Linked DNA regions of Homo sapiens: region 2 is linked to region 1. The links come from fine-mapping of genetic effects on gene expression. A gene starts in region 1. The other region holds a variant in brackets. All regions are shown on one strand. Distances are between the middles of the regions.

Region 1 (15,081 bases):
GGAGGCTGAGGCAGGAGAATCGCTTGAACCAGGGAGGCGGAGGTGGCAGTGAGCCGAGATCGTGCCATTGCACTCCAGCCTGGGCAACAAGAGAGAAACTCCGTATCAAAATACATAAATAAATAAAGTCTGAAATAGAAGGCACTAATAAATAGTTGTTGCATGAATAAATCACGTCAGCTTCATCCATATCCTAAAACATCCTTTACTCTTCCCAACCCCTCTAAGTGGCTCACTCCACCCTTTTCTCCTGCCCCAACAACAAAAACATTTACTAGCACTCACATAGTTAAGCACTATGTGCCACTTAGCTATGTGCTAAGTGTTTTCACATACTGACTCGTTAAATCCTCAATACATAATAACCCCATACTAGAATAAGTCCCATTTCAGAGATGAGAAAACTGAGGCACAGAAAGATCACAAGCTAGTAAACGGGGGATGTGAAATTCGCACCCAGACAGTGAACCTCCGGAATTTGCTGTGAACAGTCAGCAAAGCCCCGCCCCAAGCCCTTAACCCCTCCTGGTCGCCGGTCACGCCCCCATCCCCCGGTCAGTTTCAGCCTCTCTTTGGACCCAAGGCAGATTCCTAACCCCGCCCCCGCAGTTCGACCCCGCCCCACACCCCGGGCCCGCCCACCTTCCTGCAGGCTGAGGCTCCTGGCGGCGGGTGAGTCCTCGCGCAGCTCCCGAACGAAGATTCCCTCTTTGCCGCCGCCCGCTACGTTGATGCCGCTGACCCCGGTCTGCGCCTCCGTCTCCACGATAATTTCCACCAACTCCGCCCGCCTCAGCTCCTGCAGAGGGCGGCGAGGTGTCGCGTTGGGGCTCTAGGGCCGGACCTCGCCCAGAGCCCGCCATTGCGCTCAACAGTGGCTCATATACATATATATGTTTATATATATTTAGAGACGGGGGTGGGGGACGGTCTCGCCACACTGCCCAGGCTGGTCTCGAACTCCTCCTGGGCCCAAGGGATCCTCCCGCCTCGGCCTCCCAAAGTGCTGGGATTACAGGCGTGAGCCACCGCGCCCGGCCAAAAGCGGCTGTTCAGCGGGCCTTCAGGGCACACGCCCCTCGGCGCTGCCCTCGCAGGACGTCGGGGCACACCCACTCCGGCGTCTCCCCTTTAAGCAAGCCTGAGGGCAGCTGGCTTTCTAGGACCCGCGGAACGGTTAAACAGCTCCGCGGGCCGGCTGGCCTCTCCGAGGCCCTGGAGCGGCAGCCGAAAGGGGTTAGGGGAGGAGACGGGGTTGTAAGGGGAGGGACTGCGTCGGAGTGGGCTGGAGATAACTTGAGTTGTGATTGAGAGGCGGGACCAGGATCGTGGGGGCGTGGTCAGGTCGGGAGGGCGGGGCTGGGGGGGGTTGGTGCGGGTAGGAGGGGTAAGACAACACAGGCCTGAGAGGAAGAGCCAAATGGGGTATAGAAGGGTGCAAAAGATAGGAGAGGAATGTGGCCAGAGTTTATGGGAGGTTATTTGGAGCTGGGGCGGAGACCCTTATTATTTTTTTGTTGGGGGAGACAGGGTCTCTCACTCTGTCCCCAGGCTTGAGTGCAGTGGTGTGATCATGGCTCACTGCAGCCTCCACCTCCTTAAACTCAAGCAGACCTTCCGCTCCGGTCTCCCAAGTAGTTGGGAACATAGGCACGCGCCACCACGCCCAGCTAATTTTTAATTTTTTTTTTAAGAGACAGGGGTATCACTGTGTTGCCCAGGCTGGTCTCAAACTCCTGGCCTCAAGAGATCCTCCTGTCTCAGCCTCCCAAAGCACTGGGATTACAGGCATGAGCCACTGCATCTGGCCCGGAGACCCATATTCTACAAACTGAATTTAACTATGGGGGAGGGGCTTTAATTACAGCAGAACAAGAGAATAGTTGAGGATGGGATTCTGAGGAAGGGGCTGGCTGGACCTTCAAGCCCTCTGGGATTGGGGGGACAGGGAGTGGGATTTGCCTCCCTGCAGGCTTGAATGTGTGTGAGAATGTGCTCTATTGTAAATTCAATGACCCGAAGACCTGTGAAACGCCCACAGGAGAGGGAATCCAGTGAAGGGGGTCTGCGTGGGTAATGAATGGGACTGGGAGACATGGCATTCCCGGTATTTACTGTAAATGATGCAGATTGGACCTGGCCCAGAAGCCACTATGGGATTCACAATAGGGCTTCCCAGAAGAGGCAGTGACAAACCTGGATCCTGTCTAGGAATCCAATCTGCTGTGTGTCTTAGGAAGAATCTTGCCCTCTCTGGACCCACTTCCCTGCTGCAAAATAGGGTAACATAGGCATACTGGAAGGAGGTTGCAGTAGGGATCTGAGAGGACACTGTCATGGCCAACGCACTGGGGCCAGCACGGACTGGAATTGAGCCCAGGACTTGGAGGGAGAGCAGGTCTAGGCCAGATGCCCCACAGCAGTGGCCCCAAGGGACTAGGGGGCTGAGCAGGGCAGTCTGGGTAAGGAGAGTTGTGGCTGGGACTGTAGGGAACAGCATGACCACCAGTACCGCCCTTTGGCTCAGCAGGCCCTGGGCTCAGCATTTTATGTGCAGAATCTCTTTTTTTTTTTTTTTTTTTTTTTTTTTTTTGAGGCGGAGTCTCGCTCTGTCACCCAGGCTGGGAGTGCAGTGGCACAATCTTGGCTCACTGCAACCTCCACCTCCCGGGTCAAGCGATTCTCCTGCCTCAGCCTCCCGAGTAGCTGGGATTACAGGTGCACGCCACCACGCCCAGCTAATTTTTGTATTCTTAGTAGAGATAGAGTTTCACCATGTTGGCCAGGATGGTCTCGATCTCTTGACTTCATGATCCACCCGCCTCAGCTTCCCAGAGTGCTGAGATGACAGGCATGAGCCACCGCGCCCGGCCTCTTTTTTTTTTTTAAGAGTCGGAGTCAGGCCAGGCGCGGTAGCTCACACCTATAATCCCAGCACTTTGGGAGGCCAAGGCGGGAGGATCACCTGAGGTCAGGAGTTCAAGACCAGCCTGGCCAACATGGCGAAACTCCATCTCTACTAAAAGTCCTAAAATTAGCCAGGCGTGGTGGTGGGCGCCTGTAATCCCAGCTACTCGGGAGACTGAGGCAGGAGAATTGCTTGAACCTGGGAGGCGGAGGTTGCAGTGAGCTGAGATCGCACCACTGCACTCCAGCCTGGGTGACAAGACCAAGAATCCGTCTCAAAAAAAAAAAAAAAAAGAGTCGGAGTCTTGTTTTGCCCAGGCTGGTCTCCAGCTCCTGGGCTCAAGGGATCCTCTGGCCTCAGCCTCCCAGAGTGTTGGGATTACAGGTGTGAGCCATCGAATGCAGTCTGCAGGATCTCATTTCATCCTCTCCCTATAGCCTTGGGCAGTCACAGAGGAGGACACTAAGGCCCAGAGAGGTAAAGTGACTTGCCTAATGCCCTGTAGCAAGTTAAGCGGCTGGGCCTCAACCTTAGGTCTGTGACCCCAGAACTCATAGGCCATCCTGTGGGCAGAGAACTCCTGGCGCTGTACCCACTGCCTCTCGCCCCCAGTAGCAGCTTGGCCCCTGTAACAGTAGACCCGCTCTGTGCCTGGTATACAGTAAGACATGGTCAATGCCAATCCACCATCTCAGTAACAGTGACAGCAGCTGTCATTCAAAGAGGCTTCCTCAGCACCAGACTCTGTGCAAATGGCTCAAGCGGGAGTTCTCAGAGGTGGAGATCATTACCTCCATTTCTTTTTTTTTTTTTTTTTTTTGAGACAGAGTCTCACTGTGACCCTCAGGCTGGCATGCAATGGTGTGATCTCGGCTCACTGCCACCTCCGCTTCCTGGGTTCAAGCAATTCTTCTGCCTCAGCCTCCCGAGTAGCTGGGACTACAGGTGTGCACCATCATGCCCGGCTAATTTTTGTATTTTTAGCAGAGATGGGGTTTCACCGTATTGGCCAGGCTGGTCCCGAACTCCTAACCTCAAGTGATCCGCCCGCCTTGGCCTCCCGAAGTGCTGGGATTATAGGTGTGAGCCACTGCGCCCAGCCCCATTACCTCCATTTCAGTGGGAAACTGAGGCTGAAAGAGGTGAGATCATCTGCCCAGGGCCACACAGCTGAAGTGGTAGGGTTGGGATTTGAGCCATGGGTCCAAGCCCATGTCCTTAACTCCTACATTATATGCCCTTGTGTGTGTGTGTGTGTGTGTGTGTGTGTGTGTGTGTGTGTTTAGACAGGGTCTTTTTTTTTTTTTCTTTGTTTTTCTCATTTATTCTTTCCACACAGGAGACTTAATGAGACAGGATCTTGCTCTTTCACCCAGGCTGGCGTGCAGTGGTTCAATCATATCTCACTGCAACCTCAACCTCCTGGGTTCAGGTGATCCTCCCACCTCAGCCTCCTGAGTAGCTGGGACTACAGGAATGCACCACCAAACCCGGCTCATTTTTTTTTCCGGTAGAGACAGGGTCTTCCTATGTTGCCCAGGCTTGTCTCAAACTCCTAGGCTTTAGCGATCCTCCTGCCTCGGCCTCCCAAAGTGCTGGAATTCCAGGCCTGCGCCACTGCACCTGGCATATGCTGCCTCTTCTGATGAAGGGTTTCTGCCGGATTTTCTTCAGCTCCTTATTAATTTAGCTCCTTTGTGCGCCAGTGATTTCACTGCCTTGAGTCTTAGCCTGTGCCAGATGCTGCACTAAGGACATTACATATGTTAATTTTCTTCTCCTCACAGTGACCCATAAAATAGACCCTGTTATTATTTCCATTTCACAGATGGAGAGAATGAGGCACAGAGAGGCCAGAAAGTGTCTCCTTGCTGCCCTAGTCTGTGCCTCCCCATTGCCCTCAAGTGCGCCTTGCAGGACACGTGGGCACTCACCTCGGCACTCCGGCTCCTGGCCTCCATGGCGTTGCTGGGAGGCACCTGCACCCCAGGCTCCTGTGTCCTCTCCCCTTTCTGCTGCAGAACCAGCTTCAGTTCTGCATGGAGCAGCTGCCTCTGAGCCTGTGGGAGGACAGCAGTGGAGGCTTGAGGCCAGTAGGGGACGAGAGGTGGAGGCCATGCTTACAGGGAGAAAGCAGGGTGGGTATTAGAAGGGGAGAAGGGCCCCCACCCCAGCTGTCCTCTCACCGCTGCCTGGGTGCAGGCACTTCCTCCTAACAGGAGCCCAGCCCGAGGTGCCGCACAGCTGTCTGCAGGGCTCACGCCCTTCCGTGGGGTTCTTGCTGCCTGCCAGGGAAAGGCCAGGATGTGAAGCTCCAGGCAGGCGAGGAAGGGGTGGGGAGGGGCATATGGCACCAGCCTGCGCTCACCTGAGGGTCACCTCCAGCTCCTTGGGCCTCCTGGGTCCGGCGCTCTAAGAAGAATAATGTGAGCAGTGTTATTGGCTAACAGCCACCGATGACTTCCTGAGTGCCTGACCCTGCTGCGTTCTGCTGATACCCTATCCCCGTCGTGCAGGTGGGAAACTGAGCCTCAGAAGACCTTTACCCAGGATGACTCAGCTGGACAACACACGGTAAAGCCAAAACTGACTCCGAGGCCTGTCTGGCAGCAGAGCCCCCGTGCCAAAGATCTTGGCCAACTGAGGGGGCCAAATTCACTAAAAAATAATTGCTATTTGAGACAGGGTCTAGCTCTATTGCCCAGGCTGGAGTGCAGTGGTGCAATCACGGCACACTGCTGCCTCGGTCTCTGGGCTCAGGCGATCCTCCCACCTTGGCCTCCCGAGTAGCTGGGACCACAGGTGCATGCCACAACACCCGGCTACGTTTTTGTTGTTGTTGGTGGTGTGTGTGTGTGTGTGTGTGTGTGTGTGTGAGAGAGAGAGTTTTGCTCTGTCACCTAGGCTGGAGTGCAATGGCGCGATCTTGGCTCACTGCAGCCTCCAACTCCTGGGTTCAAGTGATTCTCCCGCCTCAGCCTCCCGAGTAGTTGGGACTACAGGCACGCACCTTGGGACTACAGGTACGCACCGCCATACCCGGCTATTTCTTGTATTTTTAGTAGAGACGGAGTTTCACCATGCTGGCCAGGCTGGTCTTGAACTCCTGACTGCAAGTGATCAGCCCACCTTGGCCTCCCAAAGTGCTGGAATTACAGGCATGAGCCTCCACACCTGGCAACACCAGGTTAATTTTTTAAATTAATTTGTAGAGATGGAGTCTCCCTAGGTTGCCCAAACTGAGCTCCAACTCCTGGGCTCATGCTATCCTCCTGCCTCAGCCTCTTGATGCTATAAAATAATTATAGCCACTCCCATGTACTCCCAGTGAGCAAATCACAGCTCCTCTCTGTGCTTCAGTTATGTTGTCTATAAAATGTGGAGAATAAGAGCTTTTACCTCGCAGGGCTGTTCCGAGGCTCAAATGAGTTAATAAGTGTAAAGTGCCAGGCACCTGGCAGGTGCTTTATAAATACTTGCTATTATTATTATTATTATTATTATTATTATTATTATTTTGAGACAGAGTCTCGCTCTGTTGTCCAAGCTGGAGTGAAGTGGTGCGAATTCGGCTTACTACAACCTCTGCCTCCTGGGTTCAAGTGATTCTCCTGCCTCAGCCTCCCAAGTAGCTGGGATTACAGGTGCCCACCACCACGCCTGGCTACTTTTTGTATTTTTAGTAGAGATGGGGTTTCACCATGTTGGCAGGCTGGTCTGGAACTCCTGACCTCAGGTGATCCACCTGCCTCAGCCTCCCAAAGTGCTGGGATTACAGGCATGAGCCACTGCACCTGTCAGGCCATTATTATTACTAAGAACTTCCTATGGCCCTGACCTTGTGTCGAGCGCCCCACATGCTCCACTGCACATGGCCCTCAGCACAGCCTTGTGCAATCAGCTACTACTGAGCCCATTACAGAGGAGACACCTGAGGCTGGGGGAAGGGATGTCACTAGCCCAGGTCACAAATGGTCGAGCCAGGACTTGAATTTGTCTGAAGGCTCCAGCCCTTTATCTGGGTAGTAATAATACCTGATGGGTACTGAGTGATTAGTATTTGCTGGCCCCCGTGCTAAGACCTTCACCTTCTACTTCACCTCGGAAAACCCCATTTCCTGAGAGGCCAAAAGAACTTGCTCAAGGCCTCATAGCACAGCCAGAAGGAGGCAAAGCTGAAATTCACATGCAGCCACCCGCCAGGCCCATCTGGGGAAATGGAGATGAATACTCTCTCCCCCAACCCCCGACTCTGGGCTTGTCCTCACAGCCCCCACCTGGCATGCCAACCCGCCAACCCCTATTGCACAGGGAAAGGTCAGGCCTCACGCGGCACATTCCCTCACACAATGGCCCGTCTGCTGTGCTCAGTTGCATTCCGCCCCTGCCCACCCACCCTGGCCACACAATGGCCTTTCATAGCCCATCAGTGGCCAGGAGAGAGGACATGGGGACCCCTTAACACTCCCACAGCACCCACGCCCCCCACAGTGTAAGAGGGCTTCTCTCTGCATCTCCTAGGGGGTCCTGGTCTCTGTGGCCTTCCCTGGGATCCCCTGTGAGCCCCCTACACCTTCCAGGCTGTGCCAGGACTTGAACTTGTCTAAAAACTCCAGCACGGGCTGGGCGCGTGGCTTAGGCCTGTAATCCCAACACTTTAGGAGGCCGAGGTGGGTGGATCACGAGGTCAGGGGTTCGAGACCAGTCTGGCCAATATGGTGAAACCCCGTTTCTACTAAAAATACTAAAATTAGCCAGGCGTGGCAGCGCGCGCCTGTAATCCCAGCTACTCGGGAGGCTGAGGCAGGAGAATCGCTTCAGCCTGGGAAGCGGAGGTTGTGGTGAGCTGAGAATGCACCACTGCACTCCAGCCTGTGCGATAGAGCGAGACTCCATCTCAAAAAAATAAAAATAAAAATAAAAAAAGCTCCAGCGCTTTAGCTGGACAATCATAATAACAACTGATGGGTATTGAGTGGTTAGTATTAATATTAGCTGGTCCCTGCACTAAGACCTTGTCTGCCATGTCTGGGGCATTTCCTCTGAATTGGGCCCTGTGCTAGCACCCACAGGCCTCAAAATCACCCTAGATGTTGTGGCTGTTATGGGGTGGAAACTGAGGCTCACAGAGGGGTCACCCAGCCAGAAAGGGGCAGAGCTAGGACCCGTGCCTGCCCTTCACCCCTGCTTCACCTTAATTTGCATTGGTGGCTCTGCGCACTGGGGCAGGAGCTGGGTTGGGCAGGAGGGGGCCAACGGTGCTAGAAACACACCCAGGCCAGGTGCCGGGCCTGGACCGGGCAGGCGCTTTACATACTTGACCTTGTGGGACCCCATTTAACTGATGAGTCAATGAGAGTTAAGAGACCGGTGATCACAGTGACAGAGTCGAGACTTGAGCCCAGGTGTGAAAGCGAACTCAGTTCCCTTACCCAGGACTGATACACAGCACAGAGTCCTGAGCTGGGGACACGAGAAGCCTGAACCTTGTAGGTGGTAGTAGAGGGGGTCTCCTGGGTCATCAGCTCTCTGTCCCAGGCCCGTGGCTGTGAGGGTCATGCCCGGAGCCTGGCACAGGAAGTTCAGGCGGGGCAGGGACAAGAGAGAGTGCCCTCCTTCTTCGTCCCTGCCTGGACAGGCACCCAGCCCAGGTTATATTTAGCCCAACTGTGCTCTTCCTGAGCCACGTACCCAGCCCCTGGGGTAAGGTGGGGGCAGCTTCGGAAGGAAACCCACAGAGAGGACTCTGTGTTCCCAGCTCTGCCTATCCCACTAGGCAGGGGAAAGAGGGGTGGGGAGGCTCCTGGGGAGGGTCCCTGCCTTGTGTTAGAGGCAGATCCACTGGGACCAGGCAGACACTCCAGATGCCAGCAGCCTATTTCTTGGGTAGTTACTGTGGCATGACCCTGGCATATGCCAGAACTTTCAGAATCCCCAGGGTCCCCATTTCTTGAGCACCTACTGTGTGCTAAGATCCTTCCTGTCTTGGCTCCTTAAATCTTTGTAACATCTCCCTGGAGTGGGTACAACTGAGATATCCATTTCAGATGCGACTTATGCCCTTCAGAGCAGCTGGGAGCGAGGGGTTGTCATTCGGAGGCTGCTGAGGGATCGGCTGAGGGCATTGCCCTTCTGGCCCTCTTTCCCTGGTGACTGCCACCAACTTCACTTGGGAACCCTGCCTGCTCAGAGCCTCAGCTTTCCCCCGCCACCAGCGTGATCTCTCATAGCAATGGGGGTCAGGGGTTGGGCTGACTCATCCAGACCTCTAAACATTATCTGAGGCCACCTAGGGGGTCAGGGGGAGTTAAGGCAGTGGCCTCTGGCTGCCTCGGTTAGTCCCTGCTCCAGCACTTCCCAGGTGTGAGGACTTGGGCAAGATCCTTCATCTCTGGGGCCTCAGTTTCTCCATCTGTAAAATGGAGCCAATAAGAAAGGCTTTGAAGATTTGTGAGAGAACAGCAGGTGCTTAGAATATCCCTCCTGTATAGTAAATGCTTGATTAATATAAACTCGTCTCTGACAGCAACAGGGAGAGTATGGAGGGAGGGAGCTGTGCTTCTCACAGTGTTGCACATCCAACCTTTGCTCCTCAGTGGCCCCCACTTTCTCTGCTACCAAAGGGGAGCTTTGGCTGAGAGACAAAACCCAGCTCAGGCACCAGCCTCCCAACAGGATCCATGCTGCCTCCCTAGCACCCTACTCCAGGGACCCACCCCAGGCCTCCTGCCCCAGCTCTGGTGTTTGTTAGTTTGTTTTTTGGAGACAGGGTCTCCCTCTGTCACTGAGACTGGAGTGCAGAGGTGTGATCACGGCTCACTGCAGCCCCAACCTCCTGGGCCCAACCCAATCTCCCATCTCAGCCTCCAGAGTAGCTGGAACCACAGGCATGCACCACCATGCCCAGCTAATTAAAAAAAATTTTTTTTTGTTTTGTAGAGATGGGGGCCTCTCTATGTGGCCCAGGCTGGTCTCGAACTCCTGGGCTTAAGCAGTCCTGCCGCCTCAGCCTCCCAAAGTGCTGGGATTATAGGCATGAGCCACCATGCCTGGCTGCCCTAGCTCTTTAAAAGCAGCAACTCATTTACTCGGCACCAGCCCTGTGAGGTGGCCTCCAGACATCAGCCCATTTTAGAGATGGGGAAACAGAGGCACAAAGGATGAAGTATCTTGCCCAAGGCTGCACAGCCAGAAAGGAGAGGAAAGGGGATTTGAACCACCAGCTCCAAAGTCTATACCTTTAACACCTACACCACACGGCTTCCTGAGCCCCCAGGCCCCCTCCCAGCACCTCCCGGGACCCTGAACCTCATTCCCACAGTGTCTCAGCCTGGCCAGGGAAGGGACCGGCCGGCTGATCTCTTACCGCTGAGCCTCCAGACACCTCGAGAGCTCCTGGTCCCGTCTGTCAGCCCTAGCCCTAGGCTGGGGGGGAAAAGGAATGGGGAGGGGGGAGGAGAGAGAGACCCCAGCCATTGGCTGCGGGGGTGTGACGTCACCAGAGGGTGGGTGGTGGAGAAACAAACATCCCCCTCCTCCAGCTACATCTATCCCCAAGGGGTGGGGGCCACGGGACAGCCACCAGCCGCCTCTCTCTTGCCTGGGCCGAGATCTCTGCCATGAGCTCAGCTTCAAGGATTTGCACGTTGGCTTCCTCGACTTGGAGAATCAGGACCCCACCCCAGCCCCACTGTTTCCTGGCTCCAGGACCCGGGCCTGGCCAACTGCCTCTACTGTAAACTCCTTTCACTCCCTCTCCCTGTCAACTTGGGTTCAAATCGCAGCGCGACCACTTCCTCGCTGGGTGACCTGCTGCCAGTCACAGCTTCTCTTTGCGGATAGTAAGAGTACCCACCTTATGGGGCTGTGGTGAAGATTAAACGAGTTAAAAGAGACTGAAAATGTAAGACAATGCCGGGCACATAATGAGGGTTACTAATAAGTATTTGGTATTATTTTTCACACAAATTAGGTGGCTGGCTCATCTTGCTGGGGGGTTTTGGCCCCTTTTCAGTAAGGCTGGGCACAGGGGACCCCCAGTTCTCTGTCTAATGGAGTTACTGTTTAGGGGGACACCTATCACATACTAAGTACCATGCTCAGTGCTGAAGCCCTGCTTTTGAATCAAGGGTGTAAAATGGGCTCCTTATGCTCCCCACCCTTTTTTTTGAGACAAGGTCTCACTCTGTTGCCCAGGCTGGAGTGCAGTGGTGTGATCATGGCTCACTGCAGCCTCCACCTCCTGGGCTCAAGCAATCCTCCCGACTGAGCCCCCTCAAATAGCTGGGACCACAGGTATGCATCATCATGCCCAGCTAATTTTTGTATTTTTTGTAATGGCAAAGTTTCACCATGTTGCCCAGGCTGGTCTCGAACTCCTGGGCTCAAGCGATCTTCCCACTTCGGCCTCCCAAAGTTCTGGGATTACAGGCGTGAGCCACCGCGTCCAGCTATGCCCAATTTATAGCTATGTGGCCAGGAGGTGGTGAAGCTGAGGTCCAACCCCTGTTCTCCTGGACCACAAAAACCCTGCTACACTCTTCTGCCCCTTCCACTTTGCAGACCAGAAGGCTCAGAGAAGGTAAGTGACTCTCCCAATATCACCATAGCAGGTCATTGGCAGGGGTCCAGAGTTGAACCCAGACCTGCCCGACTCCCAAGCCAAAGCTACCAGGCCTCACCCCCAACCCCTGGACCCTGGTCCAGCCCCCAGCCTGCCCTGACTCACCAGACCCCGGGGGGCGGCACAGGGAGCACAGGTACCCCCACATGCCACTTGAACCCACCCGGCTGCTGCCTCGGAAGCTCGTCGCTCTCTGAACCCAGGCCCCAGGCCTGGGCTGGGCTGAGGCTGGGGGATTACCCCCAAAGCGCATGTCAGCAGCTTCTGCCCCATTGTCCAGCCAGGCACAGACACCAAGCCCTGGCCTCTGTCGGCACCCTCGCCCCTCACACCAGCCTGGGTGGCCCCTCTGCAGACCTGTCCCCCATCTCACACCAGAGGGTTGGGGCCTACTTCAGAGGGCGTGGGGGACCAGGCCAGGATGGCAGGATCCCGGAATGCTGGGGGCCTCCCTCCCTTCTCTCTGAAATGCCCCCTGCCCACTCTCAGCCACCGGGGAAGGCAGGAATGTGCTGAGCTCTGGGAAATGCCTTCCAGGCCTGGCAGCAACCAAGCATTGGGGTGTGGCCAGAAGCCAGCCAGAGCCCTCCTCCCAGGAGGGGTAGAAGGGATGGTATGGTCGGGGCTCCCGATGGGCCTGAGGAGACCCTCACTTCATTGCAGTCTCTCTCCTTCATTGATTCACGCAAACATTCTTTTGTTCCTATATTCATTCAACAAACACTCACAAGCCCTGTTTAGTGGTAGGTCTTTTGCTGGGCACAGGGGACATCAACAGATCTAACTCCACCCCAGGGAGGAGGCGGCAAACTCAGGAAAGGATCCTGCAGGAGGTGATATCGGCAGTCAAACTGAATTAGCCAGGCGTGGTGGCGGGCACCTGTGATCCCAGCTACTCGGGAGGCTGAGCAGGAGAATTGCTTAAACCCAGGAGGCAGAGGTTACAGTGAGGCAAGATTGCGCCATTGCACTCCAGCCTGGGTGACAGAGCGAGACTCTGTCTCAAAAAGAAAATAATAATAAATAATAAAAGGAAGTCAAAATGGAAGATTGAGGAGGAGGGAGCTAAGGAAAAAAGGAGGGAAGGGGGTTCCAGGCAGAGGGACAAATGTGGGCAAAGGACCAGAGGTGAGAAATGGAGCGGGTCTTCATTCACCATCAGCAAACATTCAGTGAGCACCTGGTCTTCTGTCCAGTCCCAGGCTGGATGGTGCTGGGGACACAGTGTGACTGGGACAGCTCAGGCCTGCATCCACACCATTCACAGTCCAGCAGGGAACAAACCCAGAAAGAGGAGGGTTGTGATGGGGCAATCATAGGCAGAGAGGTCAAAGCCTTGATGGGGAAGTCCAGAAAAGGTGGCTGCCCCAGCCTAGGAAGAGAAATCAAGGAGGGCTTCCTGGAGGAAGTGGCATTTGAGCTTGCACCTGGAGGATATATAGAAGTTAACCCAAAGCCATGGGTGGTGAAGGAATGACAGTGTGTTTCAGGTAGCGGGAACACCCTGTGCAAAGGCCCTTTGAGAAAACGGTTAAGGTGAGAGTGTGAGGGAAAGGTAAGAGGAGGTCCAGGGGTCAGCAGGGCCATGAGGAGGGCCTCAGACTTTGTCCTGTGGGCCCTGAAGAGCTATCAGAGGGACAAAGTATGAATAGCACTGAGCTTTTAGGTACCTGAAGGCAGAAAGAGGCTGAGCTATCAGCCAGGCTAGCATAGGGAAGAAAATCCCCCTCTCTCTGCTCAGGGTCAAACAGAAAAGGGAGGCTGGTACACAACATCCCCTCTCTTCCCTTGTCGCAGAGAGCAGAGATCTTTGCTTGTTCTCAGTCTTAGGGGAAAGCATTTAACCTTTTGCCATAAAGTAGGAAGTTAGCGGTCCATGTTTTGTAGATACGCTTTATCAGGTTAAGGAAGCTTCTTTCCCTAGTTTGCTGTGAGTTTTTTGTTTTCTTGTTTTTGAGAGATGCGGGTCTCACTATGTTGCCCAGGCTGGCCTCAAACTCCTGGCCTCAAGCGATCCTCCTGCCTTGGCCTCCCAAAGTGCTGACATTACAGGCATGAGCCACTGTGCCTGGCCTGCTGTGAGTTATTTTCTTTCTTTTTTTTAATTTTTCTTTTGTTTTTTTTTTTTTAGGCAGAGTTTTCGCTCTTTCACCCAGGCTGGAGCAAAGTGGCACAATCTCGGCTCACTGCAACCTTCGCCCCCTGGGTTCAAGAGATTCTCCTGCCTCAGCCTCCCGAGTAGCTGGGATTACAGGCGCCTACCACCACACCCAGCTAATTTTTGTATTTTACACTTGATCTTAGCCAAAAGGCCAAGAAGCAATAATTTTGTATTTTTAGCAGAGATGGGGGTTTCGCCATGTTGGCCAGGCTGGTCTTGAACTCCTGACCTCAGGTAATCCACCCGCCTTGGCCTCTCAAACTGTTGCGGTTACAGGCATGAGTCACCACACCTGGACTGTTGTGAATTCTTATCACGAATGGTGTGTCTCTCTGTGTGTCTCTATCTTTGTGTCTCTCTGTTCTTCTGTTTCTCTCTGTCCTTATTCTTTGTCTCTCTTTCCTAGTTTCTTTCTGTCTCATTCTGTCTGTGCGTTTCTCTCTCCCTCTCTCTCTGTCATGCTTTCCCTCACCCAAGGGGGTGTGGCCACGGGAAGCTAAGTTGGGGGTGGCCCCAGTGTCCTGGTTCCGGCTGTGGCCACCGCAGTAAACACAGGACATCCTGTGAGGCTAGGGAAGGAGGTGGACGCTTCTTCTCAGGGACCACCCTCTCCAGACTCAGTCTGAGCCAAGCAGGAGCCTTGGCCTGCCCTGCGTGGCCTAGCCACTCCGCCCCACCCAGTCCAGCCAAGGGACACTGGTGTCTCCCTCGATCCCACCGTTCACGCCCACCCCCACACCCCAGTCCTCTCTCCTGAGCTCCCGGCCCAGGGCCCGGGCAGCTCCATGCCTTCCCCTGGGTGTCTCCCCAGCCTCTTGCACCCCCTGGGTCCCTCCTTGGCCTCAGCCCCAACCCCAGACTTGCTTCTCTCCCCAGTTGCCATCTCAGGGATGGCCCCAGTGTCTCCCAGTCCCCTGATTAGAGCCCTGAGCCTGGTCTGAGACCCCTCCTCCAGGCCTTGTCAGTCCCACAGCCTGTCTGCTGGGCCTCCTGAGTGCCTCTTCCCTCCCAACAGCTGCTCCGTCCCTCCCCAGATTCTCCACCCCTGGGATCCTGGGCTCCTGGCCTCCAGTGTCACCTCCCCGACGATGCCACCCACCTAGTGAAGGGATCCTTTTACTTCATGACTCCCCAGCATCTTCAGAGTTAAGTCCCCCATCCAGGGTCCTATATGCCCTGGCCCCTGCGGACCCTTCCAGTCTTGTCATTTACCTTACTGCTTTCCTCCTCCTTCCAGCCAAACCCAGCAGCTTAGAGATCCCTGAAAATGTTGTAGGGTCTCTCTCTCAGTGACCCTTGCTGTTTCCTTGCCCACCAGAACAATAGTTCTTTGGGGCAGATACTGTTACTGTTCCAGTTTACAGGTGAGGACCCCGAGGCTCAGAGAAG
Region 2 (14,782 bases), 23 kb after region 1:
CCTAGTTTACAGGATTGTTTTTAAGGATTAAATTAATTCATGAAAAATCTTCAGAGTGGGGTGCAACATGTTTTGTGTTTTTTTTTTTTTTTTCATTTTATTTATTTATTTATTTATTTATTTGAGACAGATTCTCACTCCGTCGCCCAGGCTGGAGTGCAGGGGCACGATCTCGGTTCACTGTAACCTCCGCCTCCCAGGTTCAAGCAATTATCCTGCCTCAGCCTCCCGAGTAGCTGGGACTACAGGCGTGCGCCACCACGCCCGGTTAATTTTTGTATTTTTAGTAGAGATGGGGTTTCACCATGTTAGCCAGGCAGGTCTCAAACTCCTCACCTCAGGTGATCCGCCCTCCTCGGCCCCTGAGTGTTGGGATTACAGGCGTGAGCTACCGCGCCCAGCTGCTTATTATTTTTTTCTTTACTTTTTATTTTATTTTATTTTGCTTTTGAGACAGGGTCTCGCTCTGTCACCCAGGCTGAAGTGCAGGGGTGCCATCTCGGCTCACTGCAGCCTCCCAGGTTCAAGCCATCCTCCTGCCTCAGACCCCCAAGCAGCTGGGACTACAGGCGCACACCACCATGCCTGGTTAGCAACGTTGTTTCTTTGTTAGTAGTAATAGCTGTTGTAATAAGACAAGCTCTTAGTTCAAGGTGGATAGACATGCAGGATGGGGCTAGAGGTAGACAGGGTATAATACTCCTCCCATGGCCGGATGCAGTGGCTCACGCCTGAATACTCTCTCACCTAGATTTAATTGATAGTTGTTAGCTAGGCAACAACTGTAATCCAGTACTTTGGGAGGCCAAGGCAGGAGGGTCACTTGAGTCCAGGAGTTCACTTGAGTCCAGCCTGGGCAACACAGTGAGATCTCATCACTACAAAAAAATTTAAGAATTAGCCAGGCGTGGGCCGGGCGTGGTGGCTCACGCCTGTAATCTCAGCATTTTGGGAGGCCGAGGTGGGCAGATCACGAGGTCAGGAGTTCGAGACCAGCCTGGCCAACATGGTAAAACCCTGTCTCTACTAAAAATACAAAAAATCAGCCAGGTGTGGTGGCAGGCGCCTGTAATCCCAGCTACTCAGGAGGCTGAGGCAGGAGAATAGCTTGAACCCAGGAGGCAGAGGTTGCAGTGATCCAAGACAGCGCCACTGCACTCCAGACTGGGCAACAGAGCAAGACTCTGTCTCAAAAAAAAAAAAAAAAAAGGATTAGCCAGGCGTGGTAGCATGTTCTTGTGGTCCCAGCTGCTTGTGGGGCTAAGGTGGGAGGATTCCTTGAGCCCAGGAGGTCAAGGCTGCAGTGAGCCATGTTCATGCCGCTGCACTCTAGTCTGAGTAACAGAACAAGACCCTGTATCAAAAAAAAAAAAAAAGAAAAAAGTAGTAGTTGGTAACATTGTGCTAAGTTCCCTTTATCTACATATGTGTATATATTGTTTCTTTTGCTAAACCTTTGGAGAGTAATTGCAAGCATCTTGATATTCTACCCTTAACAGCTCAGGAGGCATCTCTTAAGAATAAGGACATTAGGCCCTGTGCGTTGGCTCACACCTGTAATCCCAGCACTTTGGGAGGCTAAGGCGAGTGGATCACCGGAGGTCAGGAGTTCGAGACCAGGCTAACCAATATGATGAAACCCCGTCTCTACTAATAATACAAAAATTAGCCGGGCATGGTGGCATGTGCCTGTAATCCCAGCTACTCAGGAGGCTGAGACAGGAGAATTGCTTGAACCCAGGAGGTGGAGGTTGCAGTGAGCTGAGATTGCGTCATTGCACTCCAGCCTGGGCAACAAGAGCAAACTCCACCTAAAAAAAAAAAAGAATAAGGACATTCATGTACAAGCCACAAAAATACTATTTCACATCTAATAGAATCAAGAATTCCACAATATCACCTAATCAAATCTCTCCAACTGACCCAAGAATATCCTTTATAGTTGCTTTCTTTTCTCCAAAATCAGGATCCAATGAAGGTTCACATGCTAATTTGGTTGTAATGAAGAAATTACATACTATATTTTATTCTCGAATATTCCCCCACCCAAATCCCTTTTTTTTTTTTTTTTTTTTTTGAGACAGAGTCTTGCTCTGTCGCCCAGGCTGGAGTGCAGTGGCATGATCTTGGCTCACTGCAACCTCCATTTCCGGGTTAAAGTGATTCTCCTGCCTCAGCCTCCCGAGTAGCTGGGATTATTGGCGTGCGCCACCACGCCTGGCTAATTTTCTTGTGTTTTTAGTAGAGACAGGGTTTCGCCATGTTGGCCAGGCTGGTCTCAAACTCCTGACCTCAGGTGATCCACCCGCTTTGGCCTCCCAAAGTGCTGGGATTACAGGCATGAGCCACCACACTCAGCCTCAAATCCTTTTTGATGTTTTGTTGACATTGAATTTCTGGCAAAACAGACTAGTCATGCTGCATAGTGTCCCACATTCTGGATTTGTCTGACTGTGTTTAATTTGTTCCTCTCTTTTTCCAATAAGCTGGAGGTTGGGTCTAGGGGCCTGGTGAGATTCTGCTTATGCAGTGAACAGGGAGACTCCACAGGGTGTGTCCTAATCCTTATTAATGTACTTCCTAATCCTAACGCATTATAGTAGTTGGCACCAGTGTCAGGATGTCCCACCATTGGTAATGCAGAGTTTCATCACGTGATTAAGATTGTGAGGGTTACATCGTAAAATAAATTTATCCTTTCTAGTTAGCAAATAACCTTTGGGATGATGCTTTAGAGCCTGTGAAGATCCTATCTCCAAGATGTATGTGGTGGCTCATGCCTGTAATGCTGGCACTTTGGGAGGCCAAGGCGGGAACTTAAGCCCAGGAGGTTTTGTGATTTTTTTTTTTTTTTTTTTGAGACGGAGTCTCACTTTGTCGCCCAGGCTGGAGTGCAGTGGCACGATCTCGGCTCACTGCAAGCTCCGCCTCCTGGGTTCATGCCATTCTCCTGCCTCAGCCTCCTGAATAGCTGGGACTACAGGTGCCCGCCACCTCGCCCGGCTAATTTTTTTTCCTTTTTTTTTTTTTTGTATTTTTAGTAGAGACGGGGTTTCACCATGTTAGCCAGGATGGTCTCAATCTCCTGACCTCGTGATCCGCCCGCCTTTGCCTCCCAAAGTGCTGGGATTACAGGCGTGAGCCACCGCACTTGGCCAGTTTTTTTTTTTTTTTTTTTTTTTTTTGAGATGGAGTCTTGCTCTGTCGCCCAGGCTGGTGTGTAATGGCGTGGTCTTGGCTCACTTCAACTTCCGCCTCCCGGGTTCAAGGATTCTCCTGCCTCAGCCTCCTGAGTAGCTAGGATACAGGTGCATGCCACTATGCCTGGCTAATTTTTGTATGTTTAGTAGAGACAGGGTTTCACCATGTTAGCCAGGCTGGCCTCAAACTCCTGACCTCAGGTGATCTGCCCACTTTGGCCTCCCAAAGTGCTGGGATTACAGGCATGAGCCACCTTGGCCTCCCAAAGTGCTGGGATTACAGGCGTGAGCCACCACATCTGGCTTTTTTTTTTTGGGGGGGGGGATGGAGTCTCTGTCACCCAGGCTGGAGTGCAGTAGCACAATCTCAGCTCACTGCAACCTCCGCCTCCCGCGTTGAACTATTCTCCTGCCTCAGCCTCCTGGGTAGCTGGGATTATAGGCGTGCACCACCATGCCTGGCTAATTTTTGTATTTTCAGTAGAGACGGGGTTTCAACATGTTGGTCAGGCTGGTATCGAACTCCACCCACCTCGCCCTCCCAAAGTGCTGGGATTACAGGCATGAGCCACTGTGCCTGGCCAGAGCCCAGGAGTTTGAGACTAGCCTGGGCAACACAGCAAGACCCAATCTCCACAAAATACTGGTTTTTGTTTATGTTTTGTTTGTTTTTGAGACGGAGTCTCGCTCTGTCGCCAGGCTAGAGTGCAGTGGCACTATCTACAGAATACTGTTTTTAAAAACTTATCCTAGCATGGTGGCATGCACCTGCAGTCCCAGCTTCTTGGGAGGTTGAGGTGGATCACTTGAGCCCAGGAGTTTGAGGCTGCAGTGAGCCATGATTGCACTAGTGCACGCCAGCCTGGGTGAAAGAGTGAGACCCCAAAAGATCCTGTTTTCCACTAACTTTTCACCCAACTGTTTGAGCATTCATTGACAATTGCTGCCTGAATTAACTACCATAGTTAGCATTTTTGAGAACTTACTTTGGCCAGGAGCTTTATTCAAAACTAAAAGCTCTTCCCACAGCTCAGGAATTAACAAATGAGCTACTTGAAGAAGGTTAAGTCTCATTGCCAGTTTATGGGACGAGTATTTTTTTTTTTTTTTTTGAGACGGAGTTTCGCTCTTGTTGCCCAGGCTGGAGTGCAATGGCACAGTTTTGGCTCACCACAGCCTCTGTCTCCTGGGTTCAAGAAATTGTCCTGCCTCAGCCTCCCGAGTAGCTGCGATTACAGGCATGCACCACCACGCCTGACCAATTTTGTATTTTTAGTAGAGACGGGGTTTCTCCCTGTTGGTCAGGCTGGTCTTGAACTTCTGACCTCAGGTGATCCGCCTGCCTCGGCCTCCCAAAGTGCTGGGATTACAGGCATAAGCCACCATGCCCGGTCCACGCCTGGCTCTTAAATTTTTTTGTAGTGATGAGATCTTACCATGTTGCCCAGGCTGATCTTGAACTCCTGGACTCAAGTGACCCTCTTGCCTTGGCCTCACAAAGTACTGGGATTATAGTTGTTCCCTGTCCAACAACTATCAAATAAATCTAGGTGAGATAGTATTCAGATGCTCAGAATACTTTTTTTCCCCATCTTTTCTATGTGCTTGAATTTTTAATAATAAAATTAAGGTAAGATGCTAATTAGAACCAGGCCCCCACTAGGCAAATTCACATTTTCTGCCCTCCAGAATCCATTTTTATGGCTGGCAAAAGGGACGCCTGGACCTGGAGTCTCCCAGTGGCTTACTCCAGGTCATACACTGAAGGAAAAGGAAATTTTCCTTCATGCTTGTAGTTTCAGCTGCTTCAGAGGCTGAGGTGGGAGGATCGCTTGAACCTGGGAGACAGAGGTTGCAGTGAGCCAGGATCAGGCTGCTGCTGCGCTGTACTCCATCCTGGGCGACAGAGCAAGACTCTGTAAAAAAAAAAAAAACAAAAAACAAAAAACAAAAAACAAGAACAAGAGCTCAGAGGAATCATCTGATTAATATATATTTATTAAGCACCTACTATGTGGTGGCCACTGTTGTAGATGGTGAGGATACAGCACTGGGTAAATTTCACAGAGTCTCCCCTCTCATGGAACAGGGTAGGAGGTGAAGAGAGAAAATATATATGAAAACGAATGCATTCATTGATTTGCAAACATTTATGTCTTGAGCCCCTTTTGTGTGCCAGACACTGTTATAGGCACTGAAGAAAGGGCAGTGAAATTATAGATGAAAATCTCTTATGGGAGCAGATGAACAATAAACAAATTACCTTGGCCGGGCGCCGTGGCTCACGCCTGTAATCCCAGCACTTTGGGAGGTCGAGGCAGGCCGATCACTTGAGGTCAGAAGTTCGAGACCAGCCTGACCAACATGGTGAAACCCCATCTCTACTAAAGATACAAAAGTTAGCCGGGTGTGGTGGCAAGTACCTGTACTCCCAGCTACTTGGGAGGTTGAGGCAAGAGAATTGTTTGAACCCGGGAGGCAGAGATTGCAGTGAGCCGAGATCGTGCCACTGCGCTCCAGCCTGGGTGACAGAGCAAGACTCTGTCCGAAAAAAGAAAAGAAAACAATCTAAACAACAACAACAACAAAAATTGAAAAAAAGACAGCAAATTAAATCAATTTAATTTGCATTTTTAGTAGAGATGGGGTTTCGCCATGTTGATCAGGCTGGTCTCGAACTCCTGACCTCAGGTGATCCGCCCGCCTCGGCCTCCCAAAGTGCTGGGATTACAGGCATGAGCCACCACGTCTGGCCAGTTTTTTTTTAATTTTTTATTTGTAGAAGCAGAGTATCCCCATGTTGCCCAAGCTGGTCTTGAACTCCTGGGCTCGAGTGATCCTCATGCCTCCGATTCCCAAAGTGCTGGGATTACAGGAGTGAGCCACCTGGCCGCCGGGTCTACTTCTTTTGTTTCATCAGGTCTCTGCTGAATTGTCACCTCTTCAGACATAACACATCCTCCTCCCCAAAGCTGCACATCTCTCAGCTCACTGCAACCTCCAATCTCCTGAATTCAAGCAATTCTCCTACCTCAGCCTCCCGAGTAGCTGGGATTACAGGCGCCTGCCACCATGCCCGGCTAATTTTTTTTTTTTTTAATAGAGACGAGGGTTTCATCATGTTGGCCAGACTAGTCTCGAACTCCTGACCTCAAGTGATCCACCCGCCTGGGCCTCTCAAAGTGTTGGGATCACAGGCATGAGCCACTGCACCCGGTCTGCTTTTTTCTTTTCCTTTGCAATTACCTGCTCCTAAGGTACTAGATAATTTGTGTGGTTTTTTTGTTTTGTTTTGTTTTGAAAGTAGCCCGGCGTGATGGCAGGCGCCTGTAGTCCCAGCTACTCGGGAGGCTGAGACAGGAGAATTGCTTGAACCCGGGAGACGGAGGTTGCGGTGAGCCGAGACGGTGCCACTGCCATCTCAAAAAACAAAAACAAAAACAAACAAAAAAATTAGCCGGGCGTGCCTGTAGTTCCAGGTACTTGGAAGGCTGAGGTAGGAGAATCACTTGAACCTGGAGTTTGAAGCTGCAGTGAGCTATGATCGCCCCACTGTACTCCAGCCTGGGCGACAGAGAACGACTCTGTCTCAAAAAACAAACAAACCAAAACAAATGAGAGAGGTAGGAAAACTAGAGGAAGAGCATTCCAGGCAGAGGCGAGAGCCAGTGCAAAGGCTCTGAAGTGCTGCCTGTCAGGAGACAAGGCCAGGGCAGCTGGACTGGGAGCTGCCGGGAAGGAGGTCCGAGAAGTGAGGCCTTTTAGCCTACTCTGTGGACCTTTGTTTTTTACTCCGAGCGGGATGAGAAGACCCTGGAAGATGAATCGATGAGAAAAATAATTTCCGTTTCCGTTCAGTGACTTGAAGAAAACAAAATAAGACGGGATAATCGCCTGTAACCAGGGTGGTCCTAGAGAGAGATTCTTCGAGGCGTTGACATTGGAGCTGGGGCCAGAAAATGGAGACGGAGCCAGGAATTCAAAGGCTGGGGGAAGGGAGAAGAGGAGAGGCCGGGCCTGGGGAAATGAAACCATCGGCGAAGCCACCGGGCCCGGCAGGCCTGGAGAGAAGCCTCCGCCTGCTGGGGAGGGAGGCAGGGAGGGGGGTCGGGAGGCGCGGCCCGCCCCGTCCGGCCTCTGGGGAGGGAGGAGGCGCCAGGCCGGCTCCCGGCCGCGGCCGCCTCCCGGGTACCCCGGCCGGCCCAGGGCGGAGGGTGGGCAGCGGGGAGGGACTGGGCCTTCCCGCCACGCCCAGGGCGGGCCGCGGGCCCATCCCCCGCCGCGGAGGAGGGCAGGTTGGGGAACGTGGACACTGCCCTCGGGGACTCGGTTCCTTCTGCAGGGCCAGCCTTTCCACTTCTGTGGCCAGTTCTTTTTAACAAGTGCGGTGTTAAGGAAGGCGCTGGGCCTCTCGGAGCCTCAGTTTTTTCATCTGGAAAGAGGGTGCTCCTCTTACTGGCCTCATCGCGGTGCTAAGGAACTGTGCGATTCCCCTTCCCAGGGTTATCTTCAGGGCAGGCAGAGAGCTGCAGGGAAAGGGGGAGGGCGGGGCACGGTGGCTCACTTTTTAAACAAAAAGTTTGTTTGTTTGTTTCCAGACGAAGTCTTGCTCTGTCGCCCAGGCTGGAGTGCAGTGGCGCCATCTCGGCTCACTGCAACCTTCGCCTCCCGGGTTCAAGCAATTCTCCTGCCTCAGCCTCCCGAGTAGCTGGGATTACAGGCGCCCGCCACCACACCCGGCTAATTTTCAGTAGAGACGGGGTTTCACCATGTTGGCCAGGCTGGTCTCGAACTCCTAACCTCGTGATCCGCCTGCCTCGGCCTCCCAAAGTGCTGGGATTACAGGCATGATCCACCGCGCCTGGCCTGTTTGTTTTTGAGACGGAGTTTCGCTCTTGTCGCCCAGGCTGGAGTGCAGTGGCCCCATCTCAGCTCACTGCAATCTCCACCTCTCCGGTTCAAGCAATTATCCTGCCTCAGCCTCCGGAGTAGCTGGGATTACAGGCAGCTGCCACCTTGCCCAGATAATTTTTGTATTTTTAGTAGAAATGGGGTTTCACTATGTTGGCGAGGCTGGTATTGAATTCCTGACCTCAAGTAATCCGCCTGCCTCAGCCTCCCAAAGTGCTGGGATTGTAGGAGTGAGCCAGGGCGCCCTACCTGTTTTTGTTTTTGAAACAGGGTCTTGCTCTGTAGCCCAGGCTGGAGTGCAGCAGTGGGATTTCCTCTCACTGCAACCTCTGCCCATTATGGGCTCAAGCGATCCTTCTACCTCAGCCTCACTAGTAGCTGGGACTACAGGTGAGCACCACCACACCCAGTTTTTTTGTTTTTTTTGTTTTTTTGGTTTTTTTTTTGAGTAGAGACAGGACCTCAGGGCCTTGCCATGTTACCCCAGGCTGGTCTCAAGCTCCTGGGCTCAAGCAATCTGACTGCCTTGGCCTCCCAAAGTGCTGGGATTACAGGGGTGAGCCAACGTGCCTGGCCCTTCTTCAGGTTTTTACCCAAATGTCACCTTGTCTCAGACGCCCTATCTGGCCATCCTATGTAAATTGCAACACCCTCCTCACTCCTCTGCTCCCCCCTGCCCCCACAGCATTTATCACCACCTGGCTGACTTACACATTTTCACTTCTTTTTTTTTTTTTTTTTTTGAGACAGAGTCTTGCTCTGTCACCCAGGCTGGAGTGCAGTGGTGTGATCTCGGCTCACTGCAACCTCCGCCTCCCGGGTTCAAGTGATTCTCCTGCCTCAGCCTCCTGAGTAGCTGGGACTACAAGTGTGCATCACAATACCCAGCTAATTTTTGTATTTTTAGTAGAGATGGGGTTTTACCATGTTGGCCAGGCTGGTCTCGAACTCCTGACCTCAAATTATCCACCCACCTTGGCCTCCCAAAGTGTTGGGATTACAGGCGTGAGCCCCCACACCCGGCCTTATTTTTCTTTTTATTTACTTAATTATTTTTGAGACATAATTTTACTCTGGTTGCCCAGGCTGGAGTGCAGTGGCCTGATCTCAGTTCACTGCAACCTTCACCTCTCAGGTTCAAGCGATTCTCCTGCCTCAGCCTCTGGAGTAGCTGGGATTACAGGCGCCGGCCACCATGCCCAGCTAATTTTTTTGTATTTTTGGTAGAGAGGGGGTTTCACTGTGTTGGCCAGTCTGCTCTTGAACTCCTGACCTCAGGTGGTCCACTCGCCTTGGCCTCCCAAAGTGCTGGGATTGCAGGTGTGAGCCACAGCGCCCGGCCCTATCTAACTA[ACTAT/A]CTATCTATCTATCTATCTATCTATCTATCTATCTATCTATTTGGAGTGGGAGTCTCACTCTGTCGCTTAGGCTGGAGTGCAGTGCTGTGATCACAGCTCACTGTAACCTCCAACTCCTGGGCTGAAGAAGGGATCCTCCCACCCGAGTCTTCTGAATAGCTGGGACTAGCGTGCCCAGCTAATTTTTTTTTAAAATTGTTTTAGAGATGTGGTCTTGCTATGTTGCCCAAAGTGGTCTTGAATTCTTGGCCTCCAATAATCCTCCTGCCTCAGCCTCCTGAGTTACTGGGCTCATAGTCACGTGCTGCCATGCCTGGCATTATTTTTCATGTGTATTTCACTCTTCCCCCACTGTTAAATTTCATGAGAGCAGGAATTGTCTATTTTATTTATTTTCCTGCTGAAGAGTGCCAGGTCCACAGCAGGCACTCAATAAATCTGAGCCATTATTGGAATCCTTGGCCTGCCTCAGGCTCCCTGACACTTTGCAGTGTGAGGCAGGTATTACTCCAGATCCTTCAGTTTGGAATATGGTGTATATGAGGAACAGCAGGGAATGGTGTGGTGGGAGTATAAGAGTGAGGGTGTGTAGGGGAGATGAGTTCAGAAAGGTGGGAGGGAAAGTTAGTCATTGCTAGGTCTGGAGTTCATTTTTTTTTTTTTTTTTTTGAGACGGAGTCTTGCTCTGTCACCCAGGCTGGAGTGCAGTGGTGCAATCTCGGCTCACTGCAAGCTCCGCCTCCCAGGTTCACGCCATTCTCCTGCCTCAGCCTCCCGAGTAGCTGGGACTACAGGTGCCCGCCACCTCGCCCGGCTAATTTTTTTGTATTTTTAGTAGAGACGGGGTTTCACCGTGTTAGCCAGGATGGTCTCAATCTCCTGACCTCGTGATCTGCCCGCCTCGGCCTCCCAAAGTGCTGGAATTACAGGTGTGAGCCACCGCACCCGGCCTTTTTTTTTTTTTTTTTTTTTTTTTGAGACAGGACCTCCCTCTGTTGCTCTGTTCCAGATGGAGTGCTGGAGTGCAGTGGTGTTATCTCTGCTCACAGCCTCCATTTCCTGAGCTCGAGCGATCCTCCCACCTCAGCCTCCTGAGTAGGTGGGACTACAAGGGCATGCCATCAGCCCAGCTAATTTTATTTTAGTTTTTTGTAGAGATGGGGTCTCCCTGTGTTGCCCAGGCTGGTCTTGAACTGGACACAAGCGATCTTCCTGCCTCAGCCTCCCAAAATGCTGGGATTACAGGCGTGAACCACTGCACCTGGCCAAGTTTTTCAACAACAAATAATTTTTTTTTTTTTTGAGATGGAGTTTCGCTCTTGTTGCCCAGGCTGGAGTGCAATGGCACGATCTCAGCTCACCACAACCTCCGCCTCCTGGGTTCAAGTGATTCTCCTGCCTCAGCCTCCTGAGTAGCTGGGATTATAGCCATGTGCCACTACGCCTGGCTAATTTTGTATTTTTAGTAGAGACAGGGTTTTTCCATGGTGGTCAGGCTGGTTTCGAACTCCTAGCCTCAGGTGATCCGACCGCCTTGGCCTCCCAAAGTGCTGGGATTATAGGCGTGAGCTACCGTGCCTGACCCTTCAACAACAAATAATTTTGGAGAGTGCAGTTGTGCCAAGCATAGTTCTAGGCACAGACCAACACAACCCTCAGAGTTCCCAGGAGAGTAGGAGGCTACCTATAGATGGGAAATAAGTAACTCGAGATTGGGTAGATGCTACTAAAACAAAATCAGTCCAGGTGCAGTGGCTCATGCCTGTAATCCCAGCACTTTGGGAGGCCGAGGCGGGCGGATCACCTGAGGTCAGGAGTTCAAGACCAGCCTGACCAATATGGAGAAACGTTGTCTCTACTGAAAATACAAAATCAGCTGGGTGTGGTGGCGCATGCCTGTAATCCCAGCTGTTCGAGAGGCTGAGGCAGGAGAATCACTTGAACCCAGGAGGCGGAGGTTGTGGTGAGCCAAGATCGCGTCATTGCACTCCAGCCTGGGCAACAAGAGTAAAACTCCGTGTCAAAAAAAAAAAAAAAAAATTAGCCAGGTGTGGTGGCATGTGCCTGTAATCCCAGCTACTCGGAAGGCTAAGGTAGAAGAATTGCTGGAACTGGGAGGTAGAGGCTGCAGTGAGCCAAGATCATGCCACTACACTCCATTCTAGGAGACAGAGCAAGACTCCATCTCAAAAAAAAAGAAAGAAAGAAAATCAAACAAGTTGTGGTGGGGTGGTGACCCACCTGGATGTGTTGAGCTAGGAAGGGCAAGGAAGACCTCCCTGAGAAGGGGATATTGGGATTGGTGAAGCTATTGGGGAAAATGTCCACTGGGAAAATTTAACAGTTAGGGCAAAGGCCCTGGGGTGAGAAGGAGCTGGGGTCAAGGGAGCCCAGTTGAGTGATGGAGAGAGTGGGAGATGGAACTGAGAAAGTTGTCCGAAGTGAGAATAAGTCAGTCCTTGCAGGTCTTGGTGGAGCTGGCGCTTTATTGAGTGTGTCAAGAAGTCACTGGAGGCTGGGCGTGGTGGCTCATGCCTGTAATCCCAGCACTTTGGGAGGCTGAGATGTGAGGATCGCTTGATTCCAGGAGTTCAAGACCAGCCTGGGCTACATGGCACAACCCCATCTCTACAAAAAATACAAAAATTAGTCAGGTGTGGTCCACGTGCCTGTAGTCCCAGCTACTTGGGAGGCTGAGGCTGAGGTGGGAGAATTGCTTGAGTCCATGAGGTGGAGGTTGCAGTAAGCTGTGATTGTACCACTGCACTCCAGCCTGGGCGACAGAGCCAGAGACCCTGTCTCAAAAGAAAAAAAAAAAAAAAAAGGCACTGAAGGTTTCAAGGAGGAAGACATGATTCAATTGCCATCATATTGGGATGCAGACCTGGTTGCTTACCTTTTATTTTTATTTTTTACAATTCCACAGCAAGTATCACACCTGGTTGCTTTTTTTTTTTTTTTTTTGAGATGGAATCTCGCTCTGTCACTCAGGCTGGAGTGCAGTGGTATGATCTCAGCTCACTGCAACCTGTGCCTCCTGGATTCAAGTGATTCTCCTGCCTCAGCCTCCTGAGTAGCTGGGACCACAGGTGTTTGCCACCATGCCCAGCTAATTTTTTGTATTTTTAGTAGAGACAGGGCTTCGCCATGTTGGCCAGGCTGGTCTCAAACTCCTCACTTCAGGCAATCCTCCCGCCTTGGCCTCCCTAAGTACTGGAATTACAGGCCTGAGCCACCGCGCCTGGCCTGTACCTGGTTGCTTTCTTTAGATCCTCTGGGCCACCTCATTCCTCTCTCTGGATTGGCACCCACCTCTTCAGGTTATCCCTCCACTTTCTGACAATGACCCCTTCAGGTTGAGAAATCTGGCTTTGACCCAGAAACCACAAGCAAAATCCCCATCCTTTCTCCACCCATGGACTATACTCAGGTGTTGTTCCTCCTCGCAGCCCTTCCAGAAAAGTCCCTAATGCTGTGTAGCTCACTTGCTTCATCTCTTCAAAGACCATTGTAAAGGCATAGCCTGTACAGGTATCACATTACCTCTTCCTTCACTTCCTTCACCTCCTTCTCCTCTCCTGTATCTCAGCAGCCTGGGCTCGTACCTCCGAAATAAAGCATCAGCACAGGTCAGGCACAGTGGCTCATGCCTGTAATCCCAGCACTTTGGGAGGCTGAGGCAGGCGGGTCACTTGAGGTTAGGAGTTGGAGACAAGCCTGGCCAACATGGTGAAACTGTCTCTATTTTAAAAAAAATACAAAAATTAGCTGGGCGTGGTGGCAAGCACCTGTAGTCACTGCTATTCGGGAGGCTGAGGCAGGAGAATTGCCTGAACCCGGGAGTGGAGGTTGCAGTGAGCCAAAATCCTGTCATTGCACTCCAGCCTGGGTGACAGAGTGAGACTCCGTCTCAAAAAAAAAAAAAAAAAAAAAGCATTAGCACTATAAATCTAATCTGGGCTCTGCTTCCTAGCCAACTCTCCTAAAGAGGTCTTTTAGTACTGGGGGTCTTTGGGCATTTTCTTGCCCCTCTGGGCTCAGCAGCACATTCAGTGACACATACTCCGTGTGACTCAGTTTCTCCCTCCTGTGCCCACCCACGTGGCTGGTTAGTCTAAGAAGCAACATTTATAATAGTGAAGGACAAGGCTCTGGAGGCCATTTCAGCCTAGCTCCCTGGTCCTTGTTCTTCCTAGCTGTGTGGCTCTGAATTAAGTGACTTGTCCTCTCTAAACTTCTGGTTCCTCCTGTATAAAAAGTGGTAACAGTACTTACTTCTATATGAGGATTAACAGACTTAATTCAAATAAAGTGGCTAGAACAGTGCTCTTAACAAGCACTAATTTTTTTCTGAGGCTGGAGTGCAGTGGTGTGACCATGGCTTACTGCAGCCTCAACCTCCCAGGCTCAGGTGATCCTCCCAACTCAGCCTCCCCAGTAACTGGGACTACAGGCCGCCATGCCTAGCTCCTTTTTGTATTTTTTGTAGAGGCAGTGTTTCGCCACATTTCCCAGGCTGGCCTCAAGCAGATCCTCCCAAAGTGCTAGGATTCCAAGTGGGAGCTAGAGCACTCAGCCAACAAGCACTCAATAAATGTCATGTACAATGATACACCTACCCCAGCTATGGCACGGAAGTGGTGCTGATGTTTAGGAACTTACCAGGTCCCTCCCACTGACCCAGTGAAGTTTAGAAACATTAGACAACATCCCTCCTTCCAAAATACTTTTATTTAAAAAAATTACAAACAATCCAAAAAAAAAAAAAAAAGCCACCACAAACTCTGCCTTTCTTTTAAATAACCCGGCATGGAGCAGTTTGGTTTCCACCCTATTGCACGTGGTCCGGCCTGGTTATGAAATCAGGAGGCTGCTGAGACTGGGGTCCTGCCGAGGAAGTGGGGTTCAGCCTGGAGGGAGGACACCAGCCCCTCCCACCCCCTCAAGGTGCAAGAGGCAGAGCCTGGGTTTCTATAGCAACCTGGCAGCACATCCCTGTCATCCTTCGACAGGCCCAGCTTTCTTTATCTTCCCTGAGGCCCCAGTGGTCACAGGGGAGTGGGAACTAGCAGGAAAGGTGGAAGAAATGTGTAAGTGGAAAATCAGACTCCCAGAAACAGAGTCTCGTTAAGGCATTTGGAATAGATAAATTAATTCAGGAAGACCCACCTTCACAGAAGGTCGGGGTAACCAGACACACACACACATGCAAGACAGTTTGTGGAACCCTGAAATGGGAACAAAGGAGGCCATAGTCACTGCTTCGAGCCCCCACAAAAACACACACCCAGAGTTGCATTCAGGGATCCAGGC

Alleles and levels. Positions count from the first base shown, and alleles are read on the strand shown. Sizes are in standard deviations (SD) of each study's normalised expression.
In carriers of allele ACTAT in region 2, the expression in naive CD8 T cells of the gene that starts at base 10,315 in region 1 tends to be lower than with A alone (large effect, 1.8 SD a copy in Schmiedel 2018).

The links. PIP is the estimated chance that this variant, and not a neighbour inherited with it, causes the effect.
Region 2: its variant is fine-mapped to the expression of PRX in naive CD8 T cells (Schmiedel 2018, PIP 0.95). The same link has a PIP of 0.9 or more in Th17 cells.

The regions. Positions count from the first base shown.
Region 1 is chr19:40,403,064-40,418,144 of GRCh38, forward strand. PRX (periaxin) reads right to left here and starts at 10,315. Exons shown (of 7, transcript NM_181882.3): 1 at 10,275-10,315; 2 at 5,277-5,320; 3 at 5,095-5,193; 4 at 4,843-4,968; 5 at 643-799. The coding sequence starts at 4,869. RefSeq lists silencers at 457-626, 1,537-1,586 and enhancers at 667-886, 6,423-7,016, 6,935-7,104, 7,017-7,608, 11,125-11,773 and 1 more.
Region 2 is chr19:40,426,663-40,441,444 of GRCh38, forward strand. It overlaps SERTAD3 (SERTA domain containing 3), which reads right to left. Exons shown (of 2, transcript NM_203344.3): 2 at 14,182-14,782. Among named protein-coding and RNA genes, the nearest start is that of SERTAD1, 8.1 kb to the left of the region's middle. RefSeq lists enhancers at 6,578-7,406, 7,082-7,161, a silencer at 7,272-7,561 and a cis regulatory region at 8,640-8,904. The variant ACTAT/A (reference allele first, on the strand shown) is at 9,465.